Regions from separate parts of the Homo sapiens genome. Here region 2 is linked to region 1. The links come from fine-mapping of genetic effects on gene expression. A gene starts in region 1. The other region holds a variant in brackets. All regions are shown on one strand. Distances are from middle to middle. Region 1 holds the start of PTGR1 (prostaglandin reductase 1). Region 2 has its middle 18 kb from the start of UGCG.

Region 1 (8,740 bases):
TGTGAATTCCCCCGATAGTTATCTACTGAGAAAATTAGGGCCTATTGTTCAAAGGATGCAGTCTCGCAAGCCTGCTGTGAACCAGACGGCCGACTGACAATTACTCAACAATCACCCCTGCTTCTCGCTATCTCTTTTACCTAATAAATACGGAGGGCTGTGTAAAGCTCAGGACCCTTGTCCACTAGACGCTAGGTTCCCCCTGACTCCTTCTTCCAAATATACTCTTTTGTCTACTGTCTTTTATTCCCGCGTTTGCCCCCTTTGTTCAGTCCAATAGATCCGCGGCATAGTGGCACCCCCAACAGCAACAGAATTGGGCTGTCAACGTGAATGGAACAGACAAAAGTGTAGGACTTTGACATGGACTGAGATTCAAATCTCAACCCTGCTACTGACTAGCTATGTGATCTTGTCTACGTTGTTTTACCTCTCAGACTTTCAGTTTCCTGAGGCTCCAAGGAAGATGATGGTAATATTTGCTTCTGAAACTGCCCCTATAAACTTTATAAAATTAGGCCGGGCACGGTGGCTCACACCTGTAATCCCAGGACTTTGGGAGGCTGAGGCGGGTGGATCACCTGAGGTCAGGAGTTCACGACCAGCCTGACCAATATAGTGAAACTCTGTCTCTACTAAAAATACAAAAATTAGCCTGGCGTGGTGGTGTGTGCCTGTAGGCCCAGCTACTCAGGAGGCTGAGACAGGAGAATTCCTTGAACCCGGGAGGTAGAGGTTGCAGTGAGCCAAAATCATGCCACTGCACCCCAGCCTGGGAGACAGAGCAAGACTCCATCTCAAAAAATACATAAAATTAATCAGGAAAGAAGGGAGGGAGGGAGAAACAAAAACAAACCAAGCTGGCAGCAGGTTCAGCATTCATGATTAACTCGGCACACTCTCCCATCTGCTTCCTCACACTTTGGTGCCTATTGTTCTAGAATCACTAGACCCAGTTACAAGATTATAGTTCACCTTAACTGCTCTTTAAATAGCAACTCGAACATTATGAAATGTTGTTTTCACTTTGAGATATTCCTTCAGGTCCTGATATGGAAGAAACTACTGATGTCAGCTGAAGGACCACACTGATGCAGCTGTCCTGAAGGACTCCCCGAGGAGCTACCTCATCAAAAAATACAGTTTCCACTTTGCGATGATTTTATCCCCCTTGCCCCAACCGACCAGCAACCCCAATTTTCCAGCCCCTCACTCTCCACAATCCTCTTAAAGCCCCAGGCCAGAACTTCTTGGGAGACAGATTTGAGGGTTTCCTTCCACTTCCTTGCTGGGTGGCCTGTGATCATTAAACTCTTTCTTTGCTGCATCCCTGCTGTCTTAGTGTAATTGGTCTATACTATGCAGTGGGCATGCAAACCTGTTGATGACCCCTCCTTGGGTCATCATGAGGACTAGAAATACTGGATACCAAGGGCTATTCTAGTGCAAGATTGCATCTCCTCTGTGCTGTGCAGAGAGGATAATCACTATCTCTTCAAACGCAGTGTCCCACATATATTCAGGAATTCCTGCAATTATGAGACAAATATTACTGTTTGTTGTTATAATTATTTCTCAAGCATTATCCCACCAGACCAATGAAATGGAAGTTGTAGAGAAAAAAGTGGGGGACAAATCTGTCTGTTTTTGTTTGTTTGTTTGTTTGTTTTTGAGAAAGAGTCTTGCTCTGTCGCCCAGGCTGGAGTGCAGTGGCATGATCTTGCCTCACTGCAACCTCCACCTCCTGTATTCAAGTGATTCTCCAGCCTCAGCCTCCCAAGGAGCTGGGACTACAGACGCCCGCCACCATGCCCAGCTAATTTTTGTAGTTTTAGTAGGGATGGGGTTTCACCATGTTGGCCAGGCTGGTCTCGAACTTCTGACATCAAGTGATCCACCCGCCTTGGCCTCCCAAAGTGCTGGGATTATAGGCATGAGCCACCACCCCTGACTAAGTCTGTCTGTTTTTGAAGTACAAAAAAAAAATCCAAAAGAAATTTCCACCAAACAGATAACAATGACTTTTGCTTTTTATAGCGTACACATCTGTATCATCTGAATTATTTGATAAAAAAGCATTTTTTAATTACTTGTTTGTTACTGCTTTATTGTTTTAAGTGAACTGTTCCCTCCACAGTTAGATCAGAACTCATTGAAACCTAAGATCAGAGAACTGAATTGAGTAGAGTTTTGTCTTGGGGTAAAGCAAAGGAAAATCTTTTTCCTTGATCCTTTATTCCATATTCTAACTCTCTGTGTGCGAGTATGTAACAGCCGTGATTTAACTTAATCACCATGACTTGACAAGCTGCAGCCTTTGAGACTGACTGAGTCATCAAGTTTGGGAAACAGATTTTGTTTGACCTGGTGCGGCCCAATCTTATCTGTATCTTCAATTTAAGGACAAGTGAGTAAATATGTGAGCCACTCTGTGTTTCTGGCACTTTTTTCTCTTATTCTTACTTTGCAAAGACTTTTTATGCCTGCAATTTTATTAACACTTCTAATATCCAAAAGAAACAGTGATTCTGTAACAAGTTATCTTAAAAGAAAAAAAAAAGAGAGAAGCAGAATGCGATATGTAACCCAATACCGTTTCTATAAATTAAATGTATATGACCACAGTGCACATTATGTAAGAACATGGAAAAAAAAACTGTATGCAAATCAAATACATCACAGTAGTTACCTATAGTAGGAGGAGAAAAGCAGGAAATTGAGTTTTTTTGGTTTTCTTTTGAGACGGGATCTCACTTAGACACCCAGTCTAGAGTGCAGTGCCACGATCGCAGCTCGCTGCAGCCTCCACCTCCCAGGTTAAAGCTATGTTGCCCACGCAAGTCTTGAATGCTTGGCCTCAAGTGGTCCTTTTGTCTCAGACTCCAAAAGTGCTAGGATTACAGGCATGAGCCACAGCACCCAGCCTGGGAATGGAGTTTTGTTTTATATTAAGTTACATAAATTAATGAGAAGGGAGAGAGTGAGAAAGAAAGAATTTGGCAGACCAGTGGGGATAAAGTGCCACCAACTCTGATTAGTGTGAAGAATTCAACTCTCGGCATTGTGTTTTTAGGGTCCATCCAAGTTGCTTTATGTACATGGAACCCAGTGCTTCTGATGCTGTGTATATCCTGTGGCATGCGTCCACCACGCTTGGTCCACACACTCTGTTATGGGCTGAACTGTGTCTTCCCCAATTTCATGTGTTAAAATCCCCAAGTCCCAGTACTCAGAATGTAACTGTATTTGTAGATAGGGCCTTTAAAGAGGTAATTAAGGTTACATGAGGCCATATTAGTGAGCCCTAATCCATTTGACAGTATTTGAAGACAAGGCCTTCAAAGACGTGTTTAAGTTAAACGGAGGCTGACAAGTGGGGCTCTAATCCAATATGGCGGGTATCCTTACAAGGAGAGACATTGAGCCAGGTGTGGTGGTGGGCCTGTAATCCCAGCTTCTAGGGAGGCTGAAGGAGGATCACCTGAGTCCAGGAGTTCAAGGCTGCAATGAGCTATGATGCCCACCATTGCACTCCAGCCTGGGTGACAGAGCAAGACCTCAAAATAATTAAAATTAAATAAATAAATTAAAGACATTGAATCTTCACAATGACTGGAAGTTAGGCATTCTTCTTATCCCCATCTTGCAGATGGCTGAACTGAGTGAGGCAAGGAGAAGGTAAGTAAGTCTTTGAAAGCTACACCACTAGTAAGTGGCAGGTGCAGGCTTCGAACCTGCAGTCGTCTAATACCAACGACTTAGCTTCACGTTCAACCCCTGCCTGAGACCACCTCTCCTTGCAGAAGCCAGGTCAAGGCCTGATGTTTGCTAGGGTGTGATGGGTGGGGTGCCTCAGTGGCAAGAGTGCTCACTCCTGCCTGGGGGAGTCTGGCAAGGGTTCACAGAGGTGACCTTGAATTGGCTGGTGGAAGGCGAGTAGGTGTTCAGCAGGCGGACTGGGGACAGACAGGCAGGGTGTCTGCACCGCAGCCCTGGGCGAAAGCTTGCACTGCGGGCAAGCGGCAGGGCTGACGGGGAGCCCAGGGATCGGAGCCAGCACCGGGGGCTTATTAGGGCTGCGGCCGCCCCAGGCCCTGCCTTTGGACCCTTCCGGCCTGCTTGGCAGATGCCACGGTTGGTTCCCCCACGGGGCATATTTCCGCCGGGCTCCAACTTAGGACCCCAGGCGGAGGTCCAGTGTCAGCTGGACAAAGCTCTGTTAGGAATTTTCCTATCAGGAGTCCCTAACCCCCTACACGCACACACACGGGCGCGCGGGCGCGCACGCACACACACGCACACATGCACACATACGCGCGCGCACATGCACATAGGCACACAGAGATACGCGCACACACACACACAAACGCACTCAGATTTCCCGGACCCTGGTTTTCCTCCTGTGACCCTTTCGGGGCCGGGCTCTCACCCTAAAGAAGCAGCCCCGCCCTGGGGTGGCCCCACCCTCTCTTGGGACCTGTCATAAGTCGGACCCCGGGCGCCCGGCTGCGCAGTCCCAGCCGCCTTCCCCAGGCAGTGGAACCTTCGGGCTCCTGTAAGTAGACCTCCTGCTTTCTTTCCTTCCCTTTTCTCCCTCCTCTAACCCCCTTGCTTTCTTCCTGCCAAGTTTCTAGACGCCCCAGTGGAGGAGGTTTGCTCTTAGACCTCCTCCCCTTACGTCGAAATGACCGCTGGGTCTTGCACTCGGAGGATCTTGGGAGCCGACGTCCCGACGCCTCCCGCCCCCGCAGTTCCTTGGAGAGCTTGGAGCCGCGCGCCGGAGGGAATAGGAAAGCTTGGTTACAACCCGGGACACCCGGTAGCTTCCTGCACCCGGGAGGGGGCTGGCCAGGGAACTTGCTGGACTGCACAACTGGGGGAGGGTAGAAGAAGAAAGATCGGGGTGGGGATTCGGGAATGGGCAAGCGGGCGGCGGGCGGCGGGAGGCGAGGGTGGGAGCAAAGGGCGAGCGGGCAAAGGCCGGGCGCCGCGCCAGGCCCCCTCCTCGGGCGGGCGAGACTTTCCCGGGACCTGGCCCCTCTGCGGCCAGACCCTTTCCAGGAGGGCTTCTGGACTTGTAGCGAGTTTGGAAGCCCAGCGGTTGCTTTTTTGGGGAAAGGGACAAAGATGTGTGAACTCTAAAGAAGTTGAACTCATAGAAATAACGACTAGAATGATGGTTGCCAGAGGCTGGGAGCGGGTTCGGGGGGGAATGGGGGCTTGTTGGCCAAAGGGTACGAAGTTCAGAGACGAGAGGAGTAGGTTCTGAGATCTGTTGCACAGCAGAGTGACTAGAGCCAATAATGTGTATTTCGAAATAACAGAGTAAACTGCAAATGTCTCACCGTAAAAATGATACGTAGGGCCTGGCGCGGTGGCTCACGCCTGTAATCCCAGCACTATGGAAGGTCGAGGCGGGCGAATCATTTGAGCTCAGGAGTTCTAGACCAGTCTGGCCAACATGGGGAAACCCCGTCTCTACTAAAAGTACAAAAATTAGCTGGGCGTGGTGGCGGGCGCCTGTAATCCCAGCTACTCAGGAGGCTGAGACAGGAGAACCGCTTGAACCCGGGAGACGGAGGTTGCAGTGAGCTGAGATCGCGCCATTGCACTTCAGCCTGGGCGACAGAGCGAGACTCCGTCACAAAAAAAGTCTTAATTTTAAAAAAAGAAAAGAAGGAACAACCCCGGGCTGCAGATCAGACCGCCCCCCTGGCTCCCTCGCAATGCGGGAGTGCTCCCTCCAGGTCACCGTGTCCCCTCCCGCGGCACCGGTAGGGGAGCTGGGGAGATCACTGGCAGCTCCAAATGGTTTCGTAACTGGATTGTTTGTAGCGGATGCACCCGCGGGAAGGCGCAGGTCCCAAGTGATTCGGCAGAGTTCAGTCCAAGCAGAACATCCTGAACCCCCAGCTCGGGGCAGCCTTCATCATCTTCCCTTGCTTTGGTGCAGCGTTTCAGCTCAAAATCGGTTTGGTGTGGAGTTTAAACTCAAATCCCTACTGGGCCAAAGAAAATTCGCACCCGATGGCTGAGTGCAAGTGGTTCACACCTGTAATCCCAGCACTTTGGGAGACCGAGGCGGGCGGATCGCCTAGGCAACACAGTGAGGCTCCTCTCTACAAGAAAAGAGAGAAAAAAAAGTATTTAAAAAAAAAAAAAACGCACCTGAAAATGGGGCGGAGCAGCGGCGCCCTCCGGTGGTTTTCAGGAGTTCTGAGACTGCCTTGAAATGCGTGGCTGTTTCCATCTGAAAGAGGTGCATGGACTTCTATCTATTGGGTTCTTTGTGTTTGATGCTTTTTCTTAGAATTCACTCCATGTGAGATGAGAAACGGAATGGAATATTCGCACTTCCGGTAACTGTTCAGTGCCGTAGAGAAACTCTAGCCTAGCAGTGGCTGGGAAGAATTTCTTTGTTGTTTTATATTTTTTCCTTGTCTTGAAGATTTCTTTAAACCTCAGTTTCCTCATCCGTACACTGGCAATGATACTAATGTCTATCTTATAGGGAAGTTATAAGGATAAAATGAGGTAATCTATATGAAGTGCTTAGCACAGCACCAGAAACATAGTAAATGTTAAATGAATGTGGTTGGCATGATATGATAATGATGGGATTTGAGGATATTGTAATTGTGCTGTCTGGTCTCAGTTTGACGGCTAGAGAACTGTTAGAATGCAGTCACTTCATGGCAGTTGACTACATATTTACTGTGTTCTAGGAGCTTCAGGATGGTTCGTACTAAGACATGGACCCTGAAGAAGCACTTTGTTGGCTATCCTACTAATAGTGACTTTGAGTTGAAGACAGCTGAGCTCCCACCCTTAAAAAATGGAGGTAAGTCATACTAAAAATATTTCAGAGTTGGAAGGGACTGTATCAGTTAGCTTTTGCTGCATAACAAACTACCCCAAAGTTTAGTGACTTTAAGCAACAACGGTTTATTAGTTCACAATTCTTTGGGTTGGCAATTTGGGCTGAGTTAAGCTGGGTGGTTCTTCTTAGGTCTCATCTGGGGTAAATGGTTAATTTAGGATGGGCCTTGCTCACATGTCTGCTGATTAGCAGGCTTTCTGTTGGGGTGCATGCCTTAGTTCTCATCTATGTGGCCTTTCTAGCAGGCTAGCTTGAGCTCTATTCTTATAGTGGCCCCATAGATCTAGAGCAGCAGTAGTTGGCAAGCTCCAATGTGCAAGCACTTTCTCTTTTTTTTTTTTTTTTTTTTTTGAGACAGAGTCTTGCTCTGTTGCCCAGGTTGGAGTGCAGTGGCATGATTTTGGCTCACTGCAACCTCTGCCTTCTGGGTCCAAGCGATTCTCTTGCCTCAGCCTCCTGAGTAGCTGGGATTACAGGTGTGCGCCACCATGCCCCCCTAATTTTTGTATTTTTTCTGAGATGGAGTCTTGCTCTGTCACCCAGGCTGGATTGCAGTGGAGCAATCTCGGCTCACTGCAACCTTTGCCTCCCAGGTTCAAGCAATTCTCCCTGCCTCAGCCACCTGAGTAGCTGGGATTACAGGCGCCCACCAACACGCCCGGCTAATTTTTTTTTTTTTTTGTATTTTTAGTAGAGATGGAGTTTCACTGTGTTGGCCAGGCTGGTCTCGAACTCCTGACTTCAGGTGATCCACCTGCCTCGGCCTCCCAAAGTGCTGGGATTACAGGCGTGAGCCACAGTGCCCGGCCTTAATGTTTGCATTTTTAGTAGAGACGGGGTTTCCCATCTTTGCCAGGCTGGTCTTGAACTCCTGACCTTAGATGATCAGCCCGCCTTGACCTCCCAAAGTGCTGGGATTAAAGGTGTGAGCCACCATGCCCCGCTGTGCAAGCCCTTTTCAAGCCTCTACTTGTGCCACGTTTGCTAATATCCCATGGTCAAAGCAAATCACAAAACCAAGCTCAGATTCGAGAGGCAGAAAATAGATTTCTTGATGGGAGAAGTGGCAAGGAGACAAGCACACAAGGGTGGGAGTTATTTGTGGCCATTTTGCAATCTGCCACAAAGACCTTTCCAGGGTTCTCAGTGTGAATCCTCGATGTCACATGGCAGGATTCCCCTGCTTTCATTGATAACTGAAATTCATGCTTGAGTGCATTACTCTTCATGGCTTTGACCAGACTATGGGGAGGATGTCCTCTCTATCCTCATAAGCCTGATGATGGCAGTGAGGTAAGCACTGCCCAGTAGCTATACGAAGAGTTCAGACTATAAGATGAGTCTCGGCTGGGTGTGGCGGCTCACACCTGTAATCCCAGAACTTTGGGAGGCTGAGGCAGGCAGATCACAAGGTCAGGAGATCGAGACCATCCTGGCTAACACAGTGAAACCCCATCTCTACTAAAAATACAAAAAATTAGCTGGGTGTGGTGGTGAGCACCTGTACTCCCAGCTATTTGGGAGGCTGAGGCAGGAGAATAGCATGAACCCGGGAGGTGGAGATTGCAGTGAGCCAAGATCGCGCCACTGCACTCCAGCCTGGGCGACAGAGCAAGACTCCATCTCAAAAAAAATAAATAAATAAAGATGAGTCTCTAAGGAGTGTTTACAGGTAGGTAAGCATTTGAGAAAAGGGGACGCAATCAAGTAGCATGACAAAGTGATCAGTCCCATCTAAGCTATGATGGCCATGACTCAAATTCAAAATTCCAAAGAATGAATACATGAGAGTCACTCCAGCAAAATGCATGTTCTCTCACACCAACTGGGGCTGGCGATGAAGCCATATGGTGAGCACTG
Region 2 (11,184 bases), 280 kb before region 1:
CTACAGAAAATACAAAAATTAGCTGGGTGAGATGGTGCACACCTGGAGTCCCAGGTACTCAGGAGGCTGAGGTGTGAGGATCACTTGAGCCTAGGAAGTCAAAGCTCAAGTGAGCCATGAGTGTGCTATTGCACTCCAGGCTGGATAACGGACAGCACAAGACTCTGTCTCAAACAAAAACAAAAACAAAAAACAAGCCAAGAGTGTTTTATGTATTCTAGGTACAAGTTGCTTATCAGGTATATGATTAGCAATTACTGCTCCTCATTCTGTGGATTTTCTTTTCCCTTCCTTGATGGTGTCATTTGAAGCACAATTTTTTTTTTTTTAGATGGAGTTTTGCTTTTGTTGCCCAGGCTGGAATGCAGTGGCGGGATCTTGGCTCACGGCAACTTGCACCTCCTGGGTTCAAGTGAGTCTCCTGCCTCAGCCTCCCAAGTAGCTGGGATTACAGGCATGCACCACCACGCCCAGCTAATTTTGTATCTTTAGTAGAGACAGGGTTCCTCCATGTTGGTCAGGCTGGTCTCGAACTCCCAACCTCAGGTGATCCGCCCACCTCGGCCTCCCAAAGTAAAGCATAAAATTTTGTATTTCGATGGTCCGATTTATCTATTTTTTGTTTTGTCACTTGTTTTTTGGAATCATGTCAAACATACCACTGGCTAACTCAGGTCACAAGGTTTATGCCCATGTTTTCTTCTAAGAATTGTACAGTTTTAGCTCCTGTATTTAAGTCGTTGATCCAGTTTGATTTAAGTTTTGTATATCATGTAAGATAGGCGTCTATCTTCATTCTTTTGCACGTGAATATCCTGTTGTCCTAGCACCACTTATTGAAAAGAGGATTCTTTTGACAATGGTGCTGAGAACATTGAATGATGTCAACATCATTGTCAAAAATTGACTACAGACGTATAGATTTATTTCTGGACTCTCATTCATTCATCTGCATGTCTATCCTTATGTCAGTACCACATGGTCTTGATTATTGTCAATTTGTAGTAACTTTGTAACTTTGAAACTGGGAAGCGTGAGAACTTTGTTCTTTTTCAAGATTGTTTTTGATTTTTCTGTGTCTTTTTTTTTTTTTTTCCTAAGGCAGAGTCTCGCTCTTACCCAGACTGGAGTGCAGTGGTGCAATCTCAGCTCACGCAACCTCTGCCTCCCAGGTTCAAGCGATTCTCCTGCCTCAGCCTCCTGAGTAGCTAGAATTACAGGCATGCGCCACCATGACCGGCTAATTTTTGTATTTTTAGTAGAGACAGGGTTGGTCAGTCTGGTCTTGAACCCCTGACCTCGTGATCAGTCTGCCTTGGGCTCTCAAAGTGCTGGGATTACAGGCGTGAGCCACCATGCCCAGCCCATCTGTGTCTCTTGAGTTTCAATGTGAATTTCATGGTCAGCTTGTTAATTTCTGAAAAAGAAAAGCTGAGATTTTGATAGAGGTTGCATTAAATCGGTAGATCAATTTGGATGCTATTGCCACCTTTTTTTTTTTTGAGACAGAGTCTCACTCTGTCGCCCAGGCTGGAGTGCAGTGGTGCGATCTCAGCTCACTGCAGCCTCTGCCTCCCAGGTTCAAGCAATTCCCCTGCCTCAGCATCCCAAGTAGCTGGGACTACAGGAACCCACCACCATGCCCAGCTAATTTTTGTATTTGTAGTAGAGACGGTGTTTCACAATGTCGGCCAGGCTAGTCTCAAACTCTTGACCTCAAATGATCTGCCCACCTTAGTCTCCCAATGTGCTGGGATTACAGGTGTGAGCCACCACACCCGGCAGGTATTACCATCTTAATAAGCCTTCTGACCCATGAACATGGGATGGCTTCCCATATATTTATGTCTTTAATTTCAGTTAGCAATGCTTTCTAGTTTTCAGTGTACGGGTCTTGAAGTTCTTTTCTTAAATTTATTTCCAGGTATTTTATTCTCTTTCATGCTGTTGCATGCTTTTGTTTGTTTTTGTTTTTGAGAGCAGAGTCTCATTCTGTCACCAAGGCTGGAGTGCAGTGGTGTGACCATGACTCACTGCAGCCTCAATTTCCCTGGCTCAAGTGATTCTCCTGCCTTAGCCTGCCAAGTAGCAGGCACTACAGGTGTGCACCACTGTGTTTGGCTAATTTTTTTTAATTTTTTTTAGGGATGGGTCTTGCTGTGTTGCCTAGGCTGGTCTTGAACTCCTGGACTCAAGCAATCTCCTCACCTTGGCTTCCCAAAGTAATGGGATTACATGCATGAGCCACTGCACCTGGCCTCTTTGATGTTATTGTAAATTAAATTATCTTCTTAATTTTACCTTTGGATTGTTCATTGCAAATGTATAGAAATACAATTGAATTTTGTATATTGATCTTGTATCTTACAGCCTTGCTGACTTGCTTATTCCAATAGCTTGTGTGTGTGTGTGTGTGTGTGTGTGTGTGTGTGTGTGTGTATTCATTAAGATTTTCTGTGTATAAGATCATGTTATCTTTAAATATAAGTATTTTTACTTCTCTCCTTCCAATCTGGGTGTTTTTATTTATTTTCCTTACCCAATTGCCCCCAGCTAGAACTTCCAGTATAATGTAAATAGAAGTGGTAAGAGCAGACATCATTGACCTGTTCCCACTTATAAGGGGGAAAGCTTTCAATCTTTCACCATTAATTATGTTGTTGGCTATGCGTTTTTCATAGATGCCCCTTATCAGGTTGAGGAAGTTCCCTTATATTCCTCAATTGTTGAGTGTTTTTATCATAAAAGGGTGTTGAATTTTGTCACAAGATTTTTCTGTGTCTATTGAGATGATCATACAGTTTCTTATTCTACTAATACAGTGTATTATATTGCTTGATTTTCAGAAGCTAAACCAACCTTGCATTCCTGGAACAAATCCCACCTGGTCATATTGTATAATTCTTTTTATATGTTGCTGGATTCAGTTTGCTAATATTCATTGAAGATTTTTGCGCCTATATTTATAAGAGATGTTGGTCTATAATTTTATTTTCTTGCAATGTCTTCAGTTTTGGTATCAGGGTAATACTAGCTTTATAGAATAGTTGAGAAATGTTCCCTTTTCTTCTATTTTTTAGAAAGTTTTTGAAGAATTTGTATTAATTCTTCTATTTTTAAATGCTTGGTAGAATTCAATATGGAAGGCATCTGGGCTTGGGCTTTTCTTTTGGGTAAATTTCTTTTTTAATACTATTTCAATGTCTTGACTTATTATAGGTCTATTCAGATATTCTCTTTCTTCTTGAACCAGTTTCAGTAGTTTGTGTCTTTCTAGGAAGCGATCCATTTCACGGAAGTTATCTAATTTGTGGACAAACAGTTGTCGTAGTATCCCATTGTAATTCCTTTTATTTCCATTTGGTCATAAAGTTTCCTCTTTCATTGCTGATTTTAGTAATTTTATTCTTCTCTTTTTTTCTTTTGGTCAGTCTAACTAAATATTTATCTTGTTGATATTTTCAAAGAACAAACTTTTGGTTACATTGATTTTCTGTATTGTTTTTCTCTTTTCTATTTCATTTATTTCTACTTTAATTTTTATTATTTTCCTACTGCTGCTTATGCTGAGCTTAGCTTGCTCTTTTGCTCCAGTTTTTTAAGGTGGAAGTTTAATTTATTCATTTGATATTTTTTCTTCTTTAAAATATAGGCGTTTATAGCTATAAACTTCTTTCTGCACTGATTTAACTATATACCATGAATTTTGGTAAACTGTAGTTTTGTTTCCATCTACTTCAAAGTATGGAAATAGGGCACATGGAAATTCCACAAAGCTCACTGTTTTTACCTAGATGCAACCATTTTTCTTTTTCTTTTTCTTTTCTTTTCTTTTTTTTTTTTGAGATGGAGTCTCACTCTGTCACCCAAGCTGGAGTGCAATGGCATGACCTTGGCTCACTGCAACCTCTGCCTCCCGGGTTCAATCGATTCTCCTGCCTCACCCTCCCAAGTAGCTGGGGTTACAGGTGCCCGCCATCATGCCCAGCTAATTTTTGTATTTTTAGTAGAGATGGGGTTTCACCATATTGGTCAGGCTGGTCTCAAACTCCTGACCTCAGGTGATCCACCCTCCTTGGCCTCCCAAAGTACTGGGACTATAGGTGTGAGCCACTGTGCCCAGCCTCAACCATTTTTCTTGAATAAAAGCTTCTCAGATAGTTGTAGATCTTTTGTTAATTTCCAGAGTTCTGAGAAAAGTTAATTTTGACAATTTTTGCAAAGTGTTCACATTGCTTATATGGAGGAGAGGATTTTCAGAATTTCTTCATCTGCCATTCATTCTCAAGTGCTGCCTTCCAGCTTTTGCTTGCCATAAAGTGTTTTTATCCTCCCTAGAATTCACTGGCAGTTGTGTTAAACTAGGCATAAGGTGGGGACAAATTGTAGATAAAGAGAGTTGAAAATGGTTAAAATAAAAATGGTTCAAAATGATTAGTCATCCATTGATAAGAAATGAGGACAAGCTTTTTCCTTGAGACACCTGAGTTTTTTAAAGTCCTTGGAAGCCATCATCAATTAAGTTTAAAATCTGCTCTGTTTATTTTTAGTTTTGTCAGCCCTTTAGTCTCACCATTTCCACACTGAGGATGAATGGGCCTTTGGAAAGTTATCCTAAGGGTTAAAAATAATGGCGATGATGATTTTCTACTTGTTCGAAGCCACTATGCTAAGGGAAGAGGAACTAGTTCTTATATGACCTAGGATGCTACTCCTTTGGTACATTAGTGATTTCCACCAAATTTATTCTATATGCAAGCATTAAGCATAATTAATACATTTGTTGAGCAATTTTCCAGTTAGATTACCTATTTATAGAGCTTTGTTCCAAGGGAGGCAAACGTCTCATTCCTCACAGCTAGAAGCGGGGCCCTGTTGGAACCATCATTAGTCTTAGTATTTACTCCCCAGTAATTTGTTAACTTTACAATAGGGTAGATCAAATACATAAAAATTCAAATGAACTGTATGACCACTTGACCGGGCAGTGCAAGAGGAGGAGGATTACAAATAATTCATAGAGTCAGCAGTTAGAGTTTTTTGGATACCTTAGTGACAACAGAGCCATATTAATGAAGCATAGGGGAGTTAATAATTTATCCAAGGTCAAATGGCTAGTAAGTGGACCTAAACCCTTCCTTTTTGGAACCTGGAAAGTGAGAGTAGAAAGGAAAGTCTTATCTCAATAATTTGCCGTAGTACTGAGACTGAGACAACTTTAGAATTCACTTTGGCTCCTCAATCCTCATTACCACTGCTCTAGGCCAGAGACTCTCAAACTTTATTGTGTATGTGAATCAGTTGGGAATCTTGTCAAAATGTAGATTCTAATTCAGTGGGTCTGGGGTGGAGCCTGATATTCCACATTTTTAATAAGCACCCAGGCAATGCCCATGCTGGTGTACAGATCTCACTTTGAGTGCCAAGGCTCTGGCCATCACAGCATCCATATCTGGATTAGCAGCAATATCTTTCCTTTTTTTTTTTTTTTTTTTTTTT[G/TG]AGATGGAGTCTTGCTCTGTCACCAGGCTGGAGTGCAGTGGTGTGATCTCGGCTCACTGCAACCTCCACCTCCCGGGTTCAAGCGATTCCCCTGCCTCAGCCTCCCGAGTAGCTGGGACTACAGGCGCACACCACCATGCCTGGCTAATTTTTTGTGTTTTAGTAGAGACGGGGTTTCATCATGTTGGCCATAATGGTCTCAATCTCCTGACCTCATGATCCACCCACCTCAGCCTCCCAAAGTGCTGGGATTACAGGCGTGAGCCACTGCTCCCGGCCAGCAGCAATATCTTTCTAAATGTTCTTACTGCCCTCCAGGCAGGTAGCAGAATTTTGCAAGAACTTTTTCTGTTTGTTTTTTTACTTTCTCAGAGTTGTCACCAGTGCTCCACTTATTCCTACACTAGTACATATTCTTTATCCCTCCATCCTTCATCCCTCCTGTAGCTATGGCACCTTAGCATTCCAAAAAGGCAGAATTTAGGCTGGGCATGGTGGCTCATGCCTATAATCCCAGCACTTTGGGAGGCTGAGGTGGGTGGATCAGTTCAGGTCAGGAGCTCAAGACCAGCCTGGCCAACATGGTGAAATCCTGTCTCTACCAAAAATATAAACGTTAGCCAGGCATGATGGCACGTGCCTGTAATCTCAGCTACTTGGGAAGCTGAGGCAGGAGAATCACTTGAAACTGGGAGGCTGAGGCAGGTGAATCACTTGAAACCAGGAGGCAGCAGTTGCAGTGAGCCTAGATCGTGCCACTGCACTCCAGCCTGGGTGACAAAATGAGACTCTGTCTCAAAAAAAAAAAAAAAGAAAGATAGAACTTTATATTTTTATGTTAACTCGAGATATTTTATTGACCACTTAGCCTATGTGGTGCAATTGGAAGCAGGCTACGTCCTAACTTAAGACCAACTAAAAAAGGTAAACATTCACTAGCATTTATAAGCTCCTATCTTACAGTGCCTTTCCTAATCTCTTCTCACTTTTATGCCCTTCCATCACCTTGGCCAATTTATCTGGTACATGGGTCTTGATTTACTCTATGATTTATATCATTAACTAGCCTTTGCTAGGTACACACATTTATCAGTAGAACTGATTCCTGTCAGAAGGCTATAAAATGTGCATGCAAGAAAGAGGTAGGAAATAACCTAATATTCTAAAGAAGGAATAAAAATAAAGTACTTGCATTGTTCAGCAATTCACAGCTATTCCAAGAGGGACTATTATTAGATCCCGCAGAGAGAATGAATGAGAGGCAGATTCAAAAACTGTATGCATTCCTTTGATTTGCAATTGAACCACATCATGATTAATATTGGTGAAGGTGCTATTCCACAGTGAACCAAATTACCCCCAAGGTTTTAGTAAACATTCTCTTTTGGCTCCTAGTGTTGAAGCACCCAATAGGTAGACTAAACACATTTATTCATTTATTCAACAAACATTTATTGAACACCTATTATGTGATAGGCACTGTTTTGAGGGATGGGGAAATAGTAGCAAATAAGACTAAGTTTCTGCTTTCATGGAACTTATATTCTAATGCAGCAGGCAGGTATTAAAAAAATAAATGCATAGGATAGTGTGATAGAGGGGATACAGAGTAAATGTGGCCCAGATGTGGTGGCTCACACCTGTAATCCTAGCCCCTTTGGAGGCCAAGGTGGGAGGATCACTTGAGCTCAGGATTTCAAGACCAGCCTGGGCAACATGGTGAGACTCTGTCTGTATAAACATTTTAAAAATTAGCTGGACGTGGTGGCGTGTGCCTGTTGTCCTGGCTACTTGGAAAGCTGCGGTGGGAGGCTTGCTTAAGCCCAGCAGGTCGAGGCTACAGTGAGCCATAATCATGCCACTGCACTCCAGCCTGGGAGACAGAGGGAGACCTTGTCTCAAAAAAAAAAAAAAAAAAAAAAAGAGTAAATATGGGTGCTGCAGTGATAAACAGGGCTTCTCTAAATAAATGACATTTGAACAAAGACCTCAATAAAATAGGGGATTAAGCCACACAAATATGTAAGGAAGGGGCATTCCGTGTAGTGAGAAGTGCCAAGTGCAACGGCCTTGTGGAAGAGCACATTTGGCTTCTTTGAGGAAGAACAGATAAGCCAGTGGGGCTGGACTGGAGTGAATGAAGGGAAGAAAGGTAGGAAATAAGGTCAGAATAGTGGCCAGGATTTAGATATTATTAAGTTATGAAAGTCCTCGTAAGAATTTTGGATTCTACTTTGAGATATGAAGCCACTGGAACATTATAAGCACATTGATGACATGATTTGACTTACATTTAAAAGGATCTCTTGGAAGACGAAGGCGAGTGACTCACTTGAGCCCAGGAATTTGAGACCAGCCTGGGCAATGGATGACAGGGCAGCTTGTAAATGTACCTAAAACTCTTGCATTTTTGGAATTTGGAAAGTGAGAGTGGAAAGTGAAGGGGTAGCCTGCCCCTCCACACCTGTGGGTGTTTCTCGTCAGGTGGAACGAGAGACTTGAGAAACAAAAGAGACACAGAGACAAAGTATAGAGAAAGGAAAGTGGGCCCAGGGGATGGGCACTCAGCATACGGAGGACCTGCGCCAGCACCAGTCTCTGAGTTACCTCACTATTTATTGATCATTATCTCTACCATCTTGGAGAGAGGGATGTGGCAGGACAATAGGGTAATAGTGGGGAGAAGGTCAGCAGGAAAACATGTGAACAAATGTCTCTGCATCATAAACAAGGCAAAGAAAAAAGTGCTGTGCTTTTGATGTGCATATACATAAACATCTCAATGCCTTAAAGAGCAGTATTGCCACCAGCATGTCTCACCTGCAGCCCTAAGGCGGTTTCCTCCTATCTCAGTAGATGGAATATACAATCGGGTTTTACACCAAGACATTCCATTGCCCAGGGATGAGCAGGAGACAGATGCCTTCCTCTTACCTCAACTGCAAAGAGGCCTTCCTCTTTTACTAATCCTTCCTAGCACAGACCCTTTATGGGTGTCAGGCTAGGGGACGGTCAGGTCTTTCCCTTCCCACGAGGCCATATTTCAGACTATCACATGGGGAGAAACCTTGGAAAATACCTGGCTTTCCTAGGCAGAGGTCCCTGTGGCCTTCCACAGTGTTTTGTGTCCCTGGGTACTTGAGAGTAGGGAGTGGTGATGACTTTTAACAAGCATGCTGCCTTCAAGCATTTGTTTAACAAAGCACATTCTGCATAGCCCTAAATCCATTAAACCTTGAGTTGACACAGCACATGTCTCTGCAAGCACAGGGTTGGGGGTAGGGTTACAGATTAACAGCATCTCAAGGCAAAAGAATTTTTCTTAGTACAGAACAAAATGGAGTCTCTTATGTCTACTTCTTTCTACATAGACACAGTAACAGTCTGATCTCTCTTTTCCCCACAGAAAAGAGGGTCTTATTTAAATAATTTGCCCTATCACTGGGATAGCTTTGGAATTCACTTTGGCTCTTCAATCCTCATTACCACTGCTCTAGGCCAGAGACCTACAAACCCTGTCTCTACAAAAAATACAAAAATAAGCTGGGTTTGGTGGCACGTGTCTGTAGTCCCAGCTACTCAGGAGGCTGATGTGGGAGGATTGCCTGAGCCTGGGGAGATTGAGGCTGCAGTGAGCTGTGATCACACCACTGTACTCCAGCCTGGGCAACAAAGCAAGACCCTGTCTCAAAAATAAATAAATAAATGGATCTCTGAGGCTGTTGTGTGGAGGAGTCATGAGGTCAAGAGTGGTAGCTGATAATCCGGTTGGGAAACTATGAAAGTAGTCCAGGAAAAAAACGATAGTGGGTCATACTAGAGTGATAGCAATAGAGGTAGAGAGAGTGAGCAGTCAGACTGAGGATGTATTTTCAAGGTGGTGCCAACAGGATTTGCTAATGAATAGAATGTAGAGTATGGAACTAAGAGGACAGTCATGGATGACTCCAAGAATTGGGGCCTGAGCAATCGGTCCAATTTACTGGGAGGGTGATCACCAGAAAGGAGCAGGTATAGAGAGGAAATTGAGAGTTTTGTTTGGACATGTTACAAATGAGACACCTATTAGGCATCTGTGGTAGATTAAAGATGGCCATAGAGCTTTGTTTCCCTTCCCTTTGAGAGGTGGTGTCTAATTTCCCTCCTCTTGAATCTGGGTTGATTTAATGACTTGCTTGACCTACAAACGGGTAAAAATGACAATCTGGGACACCTAGGGTTAGGCCATGAGAAGCCTTGCTGTTTCTACCCAGGCCTCTTGGAACACTCTGGGTGCCCTGAGCTCCCACATAAGAAATCTTACCTCTCAGCTGGGCGTGGTGGCTCACATCTATAATCCTAGCACTTTGGGAGGCCAAGGCGGGCAGATCACGAGGTCAGGAGTTCGAGATCAACCTGGCCAACATAGTGAAACCCTGTCTCTAGTAAAAATACAAAAAATTAGCCGGGCATGGTGGCAGGCACCTGTAATCCCAGCTATTCAGGAGGTTGCAGTGAGCCGAGATTGCATCATTACTCTCAAGCCCGAGTGACAGTGCGAGACTCCGTCTCAGAAAAAAAAAAAAGAAATCTTACCTCTCTGAGATCACCAGGCTGGAGAGGATCCATAGGTATTTCAGTCAATTGTCCCAGATAAACCCAGCTTTCCAGCCATCACTGCCAGGGTGCCAGATGTGGGAGGGAAGCTGTCCAAGCCTCCCCAGTCATGCTTCCTGTATAGCCTGCAGAACCATGAGCCAATTAAACCTCTTTTTTTTTTTTTATAAATTACCCAGATTAGGTATTTCTTTATAGCAGTGCAAGAACGGACTGGTACAAAAAGGAAGTCAATTATATTGAAATACCATTCTATCCATAGACCCAAAAGATTAAAAAGCCATCCCACCAATAAAGTGTGGATAAAAAACAGATTGTTAATGCCATCAGTGTTGATAAAGAAGAGGTCTCAGACTGAACGCTAAGGCACTTAAACACAGCTGTTTAGAAACTAACAAAATGGATTAACATAGGAAACTGAGATGGAATAACCAGTGCCATGGGAGGAAAACCAGAAGACTTCAGAGTCATGGAAGCCAAGTGAAAAAAGGAGTAAAAGGGAAGGACATGACTAATTATATCGAATTTTGGTGAGAGGTGCAATAAAATAAGTCCTGAGAATTGACCCTTAGATTCGGCAACAAGGAGGCCATTAGCAACCTTGAACAAGTGGTTTCACCTTTTGTGGAGTGGATATAGATAACATTTTTGAGTGCTCTGATGGGGAACAGATAAACAAGGAGCTATATAAAAAGGGAATAGAGTCCAGGAAGATTTTTGTTTTCTTTTAAGAAATGAGATACTATATTAGTCTGTTTTCACACTGTTACAAAGATACTACCGAGGCTGGGTAATTTATAAACAAAGGAGGTTTATTTGACACATAGATCTGCAAGGCTGCGGAGGTCTCAGGAAACTTACAATCATGGTGGAAGGGGAAGCAGTCACCTTCTTCACAAGGTGGCAGAAGAGAGAGTGCAAAGGGAGAAGAGCCCTTTATAAAACCATCATATCTTGTGAGAACTCACTCACTATCCCCGGAACAGCATGGGGGAACCTCCCACGTGATCTAATCACCTTTCTCCCTTGACACATGGGGATTACAGGTTGAGATAAGATTTGAGTTGGGACACAGAGCCAAACCATATC

The links. PIP is the estimated chance that this variant, and not a neighbour inherited with it, causes the effect.
Region 2: its variant is fine-mapped to the expression of PTGR1 in lymphoblastoid cells (TwinsUK, PIP 0.95).

What each region holds. Positions count from the first base shown.
Region 1 is chr9:111,595,418-111,604,157 of GRCh38, reverse strand. It overlaps PTGR1 (prostaglandin reductase 1), which reads left to right and starts at 4,511. Exons shown (of 10, transcript NM_001146108.2): 1 at 4,511-4,555; 2 at 6,726-6,841. The coding sequence starts at 6,736. It also overlaps the pseudogene LRRC37A5P. RefSeq lists an enhancer at 4,088-4,660.
Region 2 is chr9:111,873,023-111,884,206 of GRCh38, reverse strand. No RefSeq gene overlaps it. Among named protein-coding and RNA genes, the nearest start is that of UGCG, 18 kb to the left of the region's middle. RefSeq lists an enhancer at 8,542-9,392. The variant G/TG (reference allele first, on the strand shown) is at 5,500.